Linked DNA regions of Homo sapiens: region 1 is linked to region 2. Evidence: fine-mapped expression QTL. A gene starts in region 2. The other region holds a variant in brackets. All regions are shown on one strand. Distances are from middle to middle.

What was found. PIP is the estimated chance that this variant, and not a neighbour inherited with it, causes the effect.
Region 1: its variant is fine-mapped to the expression of MRFAP1L2 in spleen (GTEx, PIP 0.94).

Annotation. Positions count from the first base shown.
Region 1 is chr4:6,693,127-6,698,642 of GRCh38, reverse strand. It overlaps S100P (S100 calcium binding protein P), which reads right to left and starts at 4,765. Exons shown (of 2, transcript NM_005980.3): 1 at 4,573-4,765; 2 at 1,473-1,750. The coding sequence starts at 4,710. The coding sequence ends at 1,601. RefSeq lists enhancers at 1,797-2,559, 3,762-4,497, 4,498-5,234. The variant A/G (reference allele first, on the strand shown) is at 2,697.
Region 2 is chr4:6,671,054-6,676,053 of GRCh38, reverse strand. MRFAP1L2 (Morf4 family associated protein 1 like 2) reads right to left here and starts at 1,979. Exons shown (of 1, transcript NM_138699.3): 1 at 7-1,979. The coding sequence starts at 1,841. The coding sequence ends at 1,482. LINC02482 (long intergenic non-protein coding RNA 2482) reads left to right here and starts at 2,173. Exons shown (of 2, transcript NR_134665.1): 1 at 2,173-2,370. RefSeq lists a silencer at 1,675-1,904 and an enhancer at 2,377-2,985.

The DNA.
Region 1 (5,516 bases), 22 kb before region 2:
CCCCCATTATTAACTTTACTTCTCCCTCATTATTAGTTTTTACTTTATTTAAATGTGTGTATCTGCTCCCATCTAACCTAACACGACTCTCTCTCTAGCAAAAATATTTGCAATCTGCAGTCCCTTCCCCAAAGAGGGATCCACCCAAGCCTCGTATTGTTGTGTCCACCTCCAAGTTCAGGATCTTTTGGTGATAGATCTTCTCTAGTGAAAATGTCTTCAAACATAGCAAGAGGCTTTAAATACTGGGTATCCAAAAAATGATAGGGGTCCTAAAACCAGATCCAGTTACCTACCTATCATCCAAGACCTCGCTTGAGTCCTTTTGGGTGCTCCCAACATTAGTGTCGTAAAACTAAATACAGGTGATGTGAGCAGTTGTTCACTGATGATTCTAATGCTCTCTTGGAATTCATTGTTTCTCTGTTATGGTGTTTCATAGTCTTTGTGGCAAAAATAGCATTGCATCATTAAAAGTATGTTACTGTCTGGGCGTGGTGGCTGAAGCCTGTAATCCCAGCACTTTGGGAGGCCGAGGTGGGTGGATCACGAGCTCAGGAGATCGAGACCATCCTGGCTAACACGGTGAAACCCTGTCTCTACTAAAAATACAAAAAATTAGCCGGGCGTGGTGGTGGGCACCTGTAGTCCCAGCTACTCAGGAGGTTGAGGCAGGAGAATGGCGTGAACCTGGGAGGCGGAGCTGGCAGTGAGCCAAGATCGCACCATTGCACTCCAGCCTGGGCAACACAGTGAGACTCCGTCTCAAAAAAAAAAAAAAAGAAAAAAAGATATGTTACTTTGCGAGGCGCAGTGGCTCACACCTGTAATCCCAGCACTTTGGGAGGTTGAGGTGGGCAGATCACCTGAAATCAGGAGTTCGAGACCAGCCTGGCCAACATGGTGACACCCCGTCTCTACTAAAAATACAAAAAGTAGCCAGGTGTGGTTTTGCGGGTGCCTGCAGTCCCAGGTACTCGGGAGGCTGAGGCAGGAGAATCACTTGAACCCAAGAGGCGGAGGTTGCAGTGAGCTGAGATGGCGCCATTGCATTCCAGCCTGGGTGACAAGAGCGAGACTCCGTCTCAAAAATAAATAAATATTAGAAGTATGTTACTTGAAGAAAACATGCTGTTTGGAGAGATGGAGGGGCCCAGGTTCAATGAGTGGCTACGTGACCGACTAAATGAATTACGAAGTAGATGAATAAATACATGGATGTGTGTACCCGAGCCTCCCTTGGGTCCAGGACATGGTGGCATTCACACGGCCAAAGGTGGGACTGTGTCTCAGTGGGCACTCAGAAGATGGCCAACAAATGGATTTTTATCGACTGCCTTGTCTTCTTCATCTGTCTCACCACTGCAGGCAGGCAATGAGTAATGAAATGACAAGTTTAATTAGTGAATTCTGTTTTGTGGGGAGAGGACACTGAGGTTTTAAGGAAATAACCAGTTTCTCTGAGACCAGGATCATTTCATAAGCATTTATTAATCAGAGGTACATGAGCAGGCTCAGCCTAGGGGAATAATTGCCAACAAACACTTTTGGGAAGCCTGGGACCATGGCTCTGCCAGGAATCTGTGACATCTCCAGGGCATCATTTGAGTCCTGCCTTCTCAAAGTACTTGTGACAGGCAGACGTGATTGCAGCCACGAACACTATGAACTCACTGAAGTCCACCTGGGCATCTCCATTGGCGTCCAGGTCCTTGAGCAATTTATCCACGGCATCCTTGTCTTTTCCACTCTAGAGGAGAGAGAGGCTCAAGGTCAGCAGTGAGGGTGCCTGTGCAGGGCCTCAGCCTCCACCAAGCACTGCTGCTGGGCAGGAGCAGGGCACCCACATCTGCGTCACCTTTGCTGTCAGGGCCAGGGCCAGCTGTGCATAGCAGACACATGGCATTCCTGGCCTTAAGAACTTGTGAGCTGCCTTCAGCTATCTGGCATGACATGAACTAACTTGTAATGTTTTTAGAGCGAATTGGAATTGTGCTCTGCGAGAGGGAGTTTCATTTTGAGTTTTTGCCGGGGGTTGTCTTTGGATTTGTAAAGTGCTTTACAGTGATGGTTGTTCTCAGGAAATGCATCCAGTCTTTGCTCTATTTTTTGTGCACTGCTAACTTCATGGGCCTCCCATCTCGTGCTGGCACTGAACTAGCTGCTTACACAAACAGGAACTCCTCAACACCACCAGACACGGCAGAGGCATCGCCCTGTTACAGATGAAGATGATAAGGCCCAGAGGGCCCAAGGGACCTGCCCTGAAGTCACACAGGGAGCCGGGGAAAGCCAGGGTTGAGCCCCAGGTGTGGAGCGAGCATGGAGCAAGCACCCTGAGCCCTGTTCTTCCTCTCTGCTTGGGTCCCAAGCTCTCAGGTCTTCTTTGAGAAGGCCAGGCCGGCAGGGCTCTCAGAGCCTGCCCATGTGATAGCAAAGCGTTCTCACTGTGGGACCAAGCGGGACCAGGATGCAGATCTGAACAGCAGCAGCAGGGTGTGCTGATGACCCAGCCCTGGGCCAGAGAGCTGTGTGTCCAGGTGGAAAGAAACACAATTAAAATTGGTAGAAACATATCATCTGACCAAGACACAACTGTGTGCATGAAGACCTTAGTGACAGCATGGTTTGCAATAGCAAAAGTAAGGCAGGGAAGTACAAATTCAATAGCAAACAAATAGTGGTATGGCCATGTC[A/G]CAATACCCTGCGGCCATTTCAAGTGATGTTTACAAAGTTTGTAGGCAGACAGTCACCTCGTATTTACAAAGCTCCGACTGTGCGGGGCGCTGGGTTGGGCACGGAGCAGATAGGGCCAGAAGGCCAGCCCAGCCCAGCCCTGCCCTCAGGCGGACATTGTTCTCTGACTCCGGCTTTGCTGGGCTTCAGCAGCCTCCGGAGGGAGGGCTGAGAAGGGCACCCAGGGCCTCCCCGAGGTGATTCTAATGTAACACATTAGCTGGACCCCCAGCTTTGCCATTGCTTCTCAAAGTGTGTTCCCAGGACACCTGTGCCTGCCCCTCCCCACACCCCAGTATCTTGGATCAAAGTCCTCATGGGTTCAATTCTCATACTTTGATCATTATCAGAACACCCCGAGCCCCAAGCCCAAGTTCCCAGGATGGGGCTGGGGTGTTTAATGAACATCAGAGTTTGAGAATTTATGTTGTAATGTTAAGCTCAAAAAGAAATTACATTGCATGTAAATCTCACTCACAGCAATGTTCATATGGGGAAAAGGCTGGAAGGGAGAGGAAGCGTCTGTATTCCAGGGGGGATTTCTTCCCTCCATATTTATCTATTTTTACATTTTCTACCAAAAACAGAACTTTATTTTTAAAAGATATCTTTACAGAATTCACATTTAGAAAATAGAACTAGGCCAGGTGTCGGGGCTCACGCCTGTAATCACAGCACTTTGAGATGTCGAGGCTGACGCATTGCCTGAGCACAGGAGTTTGAGACCAGCCTGGGCAACATGGTGAGACCTTGTCTCTAAAAAAAATACAAAAATTAACCGGGTATGGTGACATGCACCTGTAGTCCCAGCTACTCGGTAGGCTGAGGTGGGAGGATCACCTGAGCCCAGGGAGGTCGAGGCTGCAGTGAGCCGTGATCCTGCCACTGCACTCCAGCCTGGGTGACAGAGTGACATCTTGTCTCAAAAAAAAAAAAAAAGAAAAGAAAAGAAAATAGAAGCAATATTCTGAAGTGTTTCATGTCTTTGAAGTGATTCTAGGGCTGAAAATTTCAGGCTTTCATTTTTGATTATCAGCATCTATGTGGGTTAGCCCCTTAGCAGGTAGGCAGAGTCTGGTGGGGCCCGAAGGGGAGGGGAAGGAAGGAAGAAAGTGGGGGAGTGAGAAAGAAGGAGAGGACAGGGGTCAAAGGGAAGGGGAAATGGAGAGGGTACGGCTTCTGTTCAGCCCAGCCGGAGGCTGCCCCGGGCGGAAGGAAGCTGGTCCTGGCCGCCCTGAGGGGCCTTCTGTGAGGCTCAGGCCGGTGGCTCCTCCCTGGCAGGGAGCCCAAGGGAGGTCCACAGCTCTGCGCAGACAGGTGCCAGGATGGAGCCTCCTCCCGTCCTTCCTGCCAGACCCACTAATACCAGGCAACAAGGGGCCTGGGAATGGGAGCAGGGAAAGCGGGCAAGTGGGAGGCAGAGCTGGGGCGTTTATGGCCGGCAGCCTTGGAGGACAGCCCCGAGGGCTCAAGGGCTTGGCAAGCTTGGCAAACTTGCAAATGGCAGCCCTGGATTGCATTCCGCCCCTGCCCCCACTGCACAGGTTTGAGTCCCACTCTCCCACCAGGCCTGTCACAAATACACTGGGGTCAACCCCATGTTTCAAGGATCAAGCTGACCACACCCTCTCCCTGCTCAGATGCTCCCGCCTCCCCTGCCTTTATGCCAGGGTGGGTCCGTTCCTTGGCTGGGCTTCCAGGGCATTTCAGGATCTGTCCCTCTTGCCTCTGAGCCCCTTGACCGCCGACCCCACCGCAGCTCTCAGCCCTCTGCCTGCCACGCCTTCCCCTTCTTCCCCAGCCCCCGCTGAGTCCAGCACTGCCGGCCTGGCTCACCTGCAGGAAGCCTGGTAGCTCCTTCTCCATCAGCACCTTGAGCTCCCCCTTGGTCAGGGTCTGCGTGCTGCCCTCGCTGCCCGAATATCGGGAAAAGACGTCTATGATCATGCCCATGGCTGTCTCTAGTTCCGTCATGGTGCTAGATTCAGACCCACCTTCCTCCTGGGGGCTGGCAGGGCCGAGAAAATGTCCCACTGGCAGCCTCTTGGTGCTTTATAAGGCAGCCTCATATTGACACAGAGGGTGGGACAGTGGGGTTGGGACATTCAGGAAGTCCTGCCCCTCCCCATTCATGTGCTCAGTTCTGATGAAATGCATCGTTGTGATGACGTTTCTGGAACCTTTCCCCCAGCCAAGGCCCAGGGTGTGGGCTGCCTCCAGGCATCCACATTTTACAGTGTTCACCTGTGTCTCGGCGCCATCACTGAGCCACAGTGGCATCCTCATTCCTGGCCCTCCCTGGGTAAGTGGGCACGGGGTGAGTGTGTGTGGAGTGAGTGGTGACTCCGTGGCCCTTTGTGTCAATATCAGAGCGTGCTGGCACCCAGCGTGCTGACACGAGGAGACATCTGAGAGTGAATTCACATGGGCGTGTTTGTGAACATGGATCTGCCCCATCGTCCCTTTCTTAGAGCACTCTGTGTCCTTCAGAGGCCCAGCTTCCACGTCAATCTCGCTCGCTCCTCCCCTGTGGGGCCAAACAGAAAACTCCCCTTCATCCTCTGGGAGTTTGCTGAAAATCAACGGGCAGAAGGCAGATGAATAGGAGAAGAGCATAACAGATGTATTTGATCATAGCTTATGTGGCACGGCAGCCTTCAAGATGAAGATCCAAAGATCTGGTGGAAACTATCCATAAACACAGTTCAGCGAAGTATGGAAATATGATTGGATACAAAAGTAAGGCTGGATGCTCACAGACCAAGAGGAGAGCCTGGTAG
Region 2 (5,000 bases):
AGAAACTCATTTTGAAAAATGTTTATTTACCTTACCTTTTCTTGGCCAAGTCAATTGCTTTGGTCATCTGCACAAAGATTCTAAACACTGGCTTTCAGCATTTCTTTTTCCAAGCAAATGAAATTTATCATAACAAGACAGAGCTCTGATTTTAGTCTCTGTGGAGTCTGGGCTCTGATGACCTAGGCTAGTCATCATCTAAGCCTGGAATGACTGTTTGGGACCCCCATGGCCAGCTTGAAGCTTTCCTTCCTCAGCCACTCTGGGCCCCTGAAGAGGTCACATGCATCTGTGGCAGAGACTGTATTATAACAAAGTTGTTTACCCCAAAGTCAGCAAACACATGTACCTAGAACTCATCCCAATTGTAGGTTGCTCACCAGACAGGTTACACGATGTGCACCAGTTAACATGCCATAGGAAAATTACATTCCAAGAAAAAGCAAAATGCTATAAAAACAAAAAAAACAAAACACCCAAAACAGCTCTCCCTCCTTTGATCTGATGGTCTGCAGAGGTCCTCAAATCCACACACTGCCACTCTTCAAGACCAACCGTCCACTGGGCCTTCTTAATCTCATCCAAAGTCGCATTCACAACTTTGACAGGAGCTTGGGTTCTTCATGTGGCAGCTGCAACCATGTAGTGTCTTCTCACTTGCAGAACTCTAACCTCAAGTCTCTCATGAGTCCCCAAATTCCAGGAAGCATAAAAAAACAGCAAAGCACACGAGTATACTTCCAAACTTTGAAAATACAATAAGATCACAGGAACAAATATGACCACGCAGCAGCGTACGTACTGTATAGGCCATATTCCTTTACGTGGGACATTAATGAAAAGCTGTCTTTTCCAAACTGAATGCGCCTATTAATAAAAAAATACACCTGACCATCTAATGCTGAAGTCATCCGCCAGGATGGTACTGGAAATTGAGTGGCTAATGTGGAGAAAACGCAGGCAGAAAAACAGGGGAGACAAAACGAAAGGCTCTCTTGGTTTGAGCCTGTCCAAGCAGCCACGACTCCTTATCAGGTGAACACAGTTCGTCAGTTGGCCACCTAAAGTACAAGTGGGAGAAATTCATCATCACAACATAAATTTTGAGCTTGATATTCTCATATCCGGGAGTCAAACAAACCCAACCACCTGTGCACAATGCTTCCACCTGCAGGAAGGTCATCGCAAACGCTCCAATCTCGTAACAACATTCACACGTTTCCAGCATGTACCTCCGCTTCACACCTCTCTCCCCCCACGTAGTGACCCACCAGGTCTACGTCCTGAAAATACTTCCAGTGGTCATGACTCTTTACAACAACATATCAAATTATTTTCTCTAATTACCTATGAAAAAAGAATGAAACCAACTCCGCGGAGAGCGTGGCACGGCTCTGCGCTCCCCTCCCTGCCTACCCAGCGCCTTCCACGCGGGACACTCCCCGCCGCGCTCCGCTCCAGACCCGCGCGGCCTCGCCGGCTCAGCAGCACTCGCAGCCGGCGATCCGCTGGTGCAGCTCCACGATCCGCCTGCCCATCCGCGCCGCCTCCGCAGCCTTCCTCTCTGCTTCGGCGCACAGCCGAGCCACCCGCTCCTCAGCCTCCGCACGCGGGCGGGGTGCTGGGGCCCGGGCGCCCCGCTCCTCTGCCTCCACCTCACTCTTGATGGCGTCGAGCAGGCTCTGGATCTCCAGCAGCTTCCTGCGGGCCCGCCAGTGCGCCCGGGCGCGCTCGCGCTCCAGGGAGGCCAGGTTCTCGCGGCCGGCGCGGGGCGCGGGGCTCAGCGGGCTGCCCGGCTCCTCGCGGGGCTCCCGCGCCTCGTCCGCGTCCACGGGCCGCATCACGCCGCCGCCTCTTCCAGCCCGCGGGGCACGCCGGGGCTGCTCACCAGCAGCGAGCGCGGAAGCCTCGCTGTCACCAACGACCAGACTAGCAACAGGTTGCCCCAACTTTCCGCAGCGAGGACGGTATCCAAAATGGGCTACTAGCCGTCGGCCAGGACGCTGCCACTGCGGCCCTTTTACGACACCTGCGGTCCTTTACCGCCACGCAGCAAGCGAGAACCGCATTCGGGGCTCCCGCCTCAGCGGTCCTGCGCGCGCACGCGCACTTGCACGCACGCGTACCCCCCCGCACGCATGCGCACCCCATGTCCCCGCCCGCTGTAGCGCCACAGCTCTTTGGGCGTTGATTCTAGGGTCAGGGCCCTCACTCACACTGCTGGAAGGTTAAAGTCGACTTCACGCTAGTTTAAGGAAATATCTGACGCTGATAACCATGTCCCAAGCACTGCTCTAAGTTCCCAATGTGTCCGGAATTGGTGGGTTCTTGGTCTCACTGACTTCAAGAATGAAGCCACGGACCCTCGCGGTGAGTGTTACAGCTCTTAAAGTGGCGCGTCTGGAGTTTGTTCCTTCTGATGTTCGGATGTGTTCGGAGTTTTTTCCTTCTGGTGGGTTCGTGGTCTCGCCGGCTCAGGAGTGAAACTGCAGACCTGTTACGGCTCATAAAGGCAGTGTGGACCCAAAGAGTGAGCAGCAGCAGGATTTATTGCAAAGAGAGAAAGAACAAAGCTTCCACAATAGAAGGGGACCTGAGCCGGTTGCCACTGCTGGCTCCGGCAGCCTGCTTTTATTGTCTTATCTGGCCCCACCCACATCCTGCTGATTGGTAGAGCCGAGTGGTCTGTTTTGACAGGGTGCTGATTGGTGCGTTTACAATCCCTGAGCTAGACACAAAGGTTCTCCAAGGCCCCAGCAGAGTCGATTGGTATATTCACAAACCCTGAGCTAGACACACGGTGCTGATTGGTGTATTTACAATCCCTGAGCTAGACATAAAGGTTCTCCACATCCCCACCAGACTCAGGAGCCCAGCTGGCTTCACCAAGTGGATCCCACACCAGGGCTGCAGGTGGAGCTGCCTGCGAGAACGGCACCGTGCGCCCACACTCCTCAGCCCTTGGGTGGTGATGGGACTGGGCGCCGTGGAGCAGGGGGTGGTGCTCGTCGAGGAGGCTCGGGCAGCACAGGAGCCCATGGAGGGGGTGGGAGGCTCAGGCATGGCGGGCTGCAGGTCCCGAGCCCTGCCCCTCGGAAAGGCAGCTAAGGCCCGGTGAGAAATCGAGCACAGCGCCGGTGGGCTGGCACTGCTGAGGGACCCAGTACACCCTCCGCAGCCGCTGGCCCGGGTGCTAAGCCCCTCATTGCCGGGGGCTGGCAGGGCCAGCCGGCTGCTCCGAGTGCGGGGCCCACCAAGCCCACGCCCACCCTGAACTCCAGCTGGCCCGCAAGCGCCGTGTGCAGCCCCGGTGCCCGCTCGCGCCTCTCCCTCCACACCTCCCTGCAAGCTGAGAGAGCCGGCTCTGGCCTTGGCCAGCCCAGAAAGGGGCCTCCACAGTGCAGCAGTGGGCTGAAGGGCTCCTCAAGTGCTGCCAAAGTGGGAGCCCAGGCAGAGGAGGCACCGAGAGTGAGCGAGGGCTGTGAGGACTGCCAGCACACTGTCACCTCTCACCAACATTCTAAATCATAAACACCCAGGCCGGGCGTGTGGCTCACGCCTATAATCCCAGCACTTTGGGAGGCTGAGGTGAGAGGATCGCTTGAGCTCAGGAGTTCCATACCAGCCTGGGCAACAAGGGAAAAAACCCTACCAAAAAAAACACAAGAAATTAGCTGGGCGTGGTGGCGCGTGCCGATAGTCCCAGCTACTTGAGAGGCTGAGCCGGGAAGATTGCTTGAGCCCAGCAGGTCGAGACCGAGGTGAGCTCTGAACGCCTGATTGCGCCACTGCACCCCAGCCCAGTGACAGGGCGAGACCCTGTCTCAAAATAAATAAATAAAAATAATAAACAACCGAATTCAGTGGTCCCGTTAGAATATTCCAGGCTCCGAGAAGCCAGGTGCTCACAGCGTCGGGATTTGCCCCCAGCCAGGGCCTCCGCTCCCTCTTGCCTCGGGCAGATGCTCCTGGAACACAGAGCTGCGGCCTCGGTGCTGATGCTGAGTGCTGTGACCCAGCCTCCCCCTACTTTTTTCCTAAGGGTATAAGCTTCACTCTGCCTGGGGCTTTGGCTGTAAGTTGGAGTCTGGCTTTACCCACTGTGGGCACCCAAGGCCAAGGTGGGTCTGATTCACCACTGTTTCCTCAGCCCTGCCAGGCTCTGAATATGCCTTTAGGAATCATTCTGGAAGATTTCTTTCTTCACTGGACTATATAAGTGCCTCTGCGAGAAAACAGGCCCTAGGGGCAGGTACTTAGTCAGTTTAGTCATCTGTTTCCTCAGCTTGAAATGGGCTTGGCATACAGCAGGAGCCCAGTAAATGTTGCTTTAATGCTCATTTCCCAAGAGATCTTTATTAAGCACCCACTGCATGTCATTGTGTCTAGGCTTATTCACTGTGTACCTCTAGCAGAAAGTTAAGGGGACCCTCCATGCTTGATGGCCAGAGGTCACTCTCAGCTCCTACAGGTCACTCTCCGGTCCTTAAACGTGGCCCTCTCCATCTTCAAAGCCAGTAAGAGCATGTCGGATCCTTCTTATCCTTCCAGCCTCTCTGTCATCCCCTTCTGCTCCCAGCTGGAGAAAACTCTGCTTTTAAGGGGCTTGCCATGGTCCAAATATGTGAGTCCCCCCAAAATTCATATGTTGCAAAGCAATCCCCAATGTGATGATATTAGGAGGTGGGGTCTTTGGGAGGTGATGTGGTCATGAAGGCTCAGCTTTCATGAATGAGATTAGCACCCTCATAAAACAACTCCACAGGGCCGCCTTACCCCTTCTGCTGTGGGAGGTTATAGCAAAAAGATGGGCTTCTATGAACCAGAAGTGGGCCCTCACCAGGCACCAAACCTGCTGGCACCGTGATCTTGTACTGCTCAGCCTTCAGAACTCAGAAAATACATTTCTGTTGTTTAGAAGACACCCAGTTTCTGGTATTTTGTTAGAGCAGCGTGAACGGACTAAAATAGTGCTTATGTGGTTGTGTAACAGCATCGAT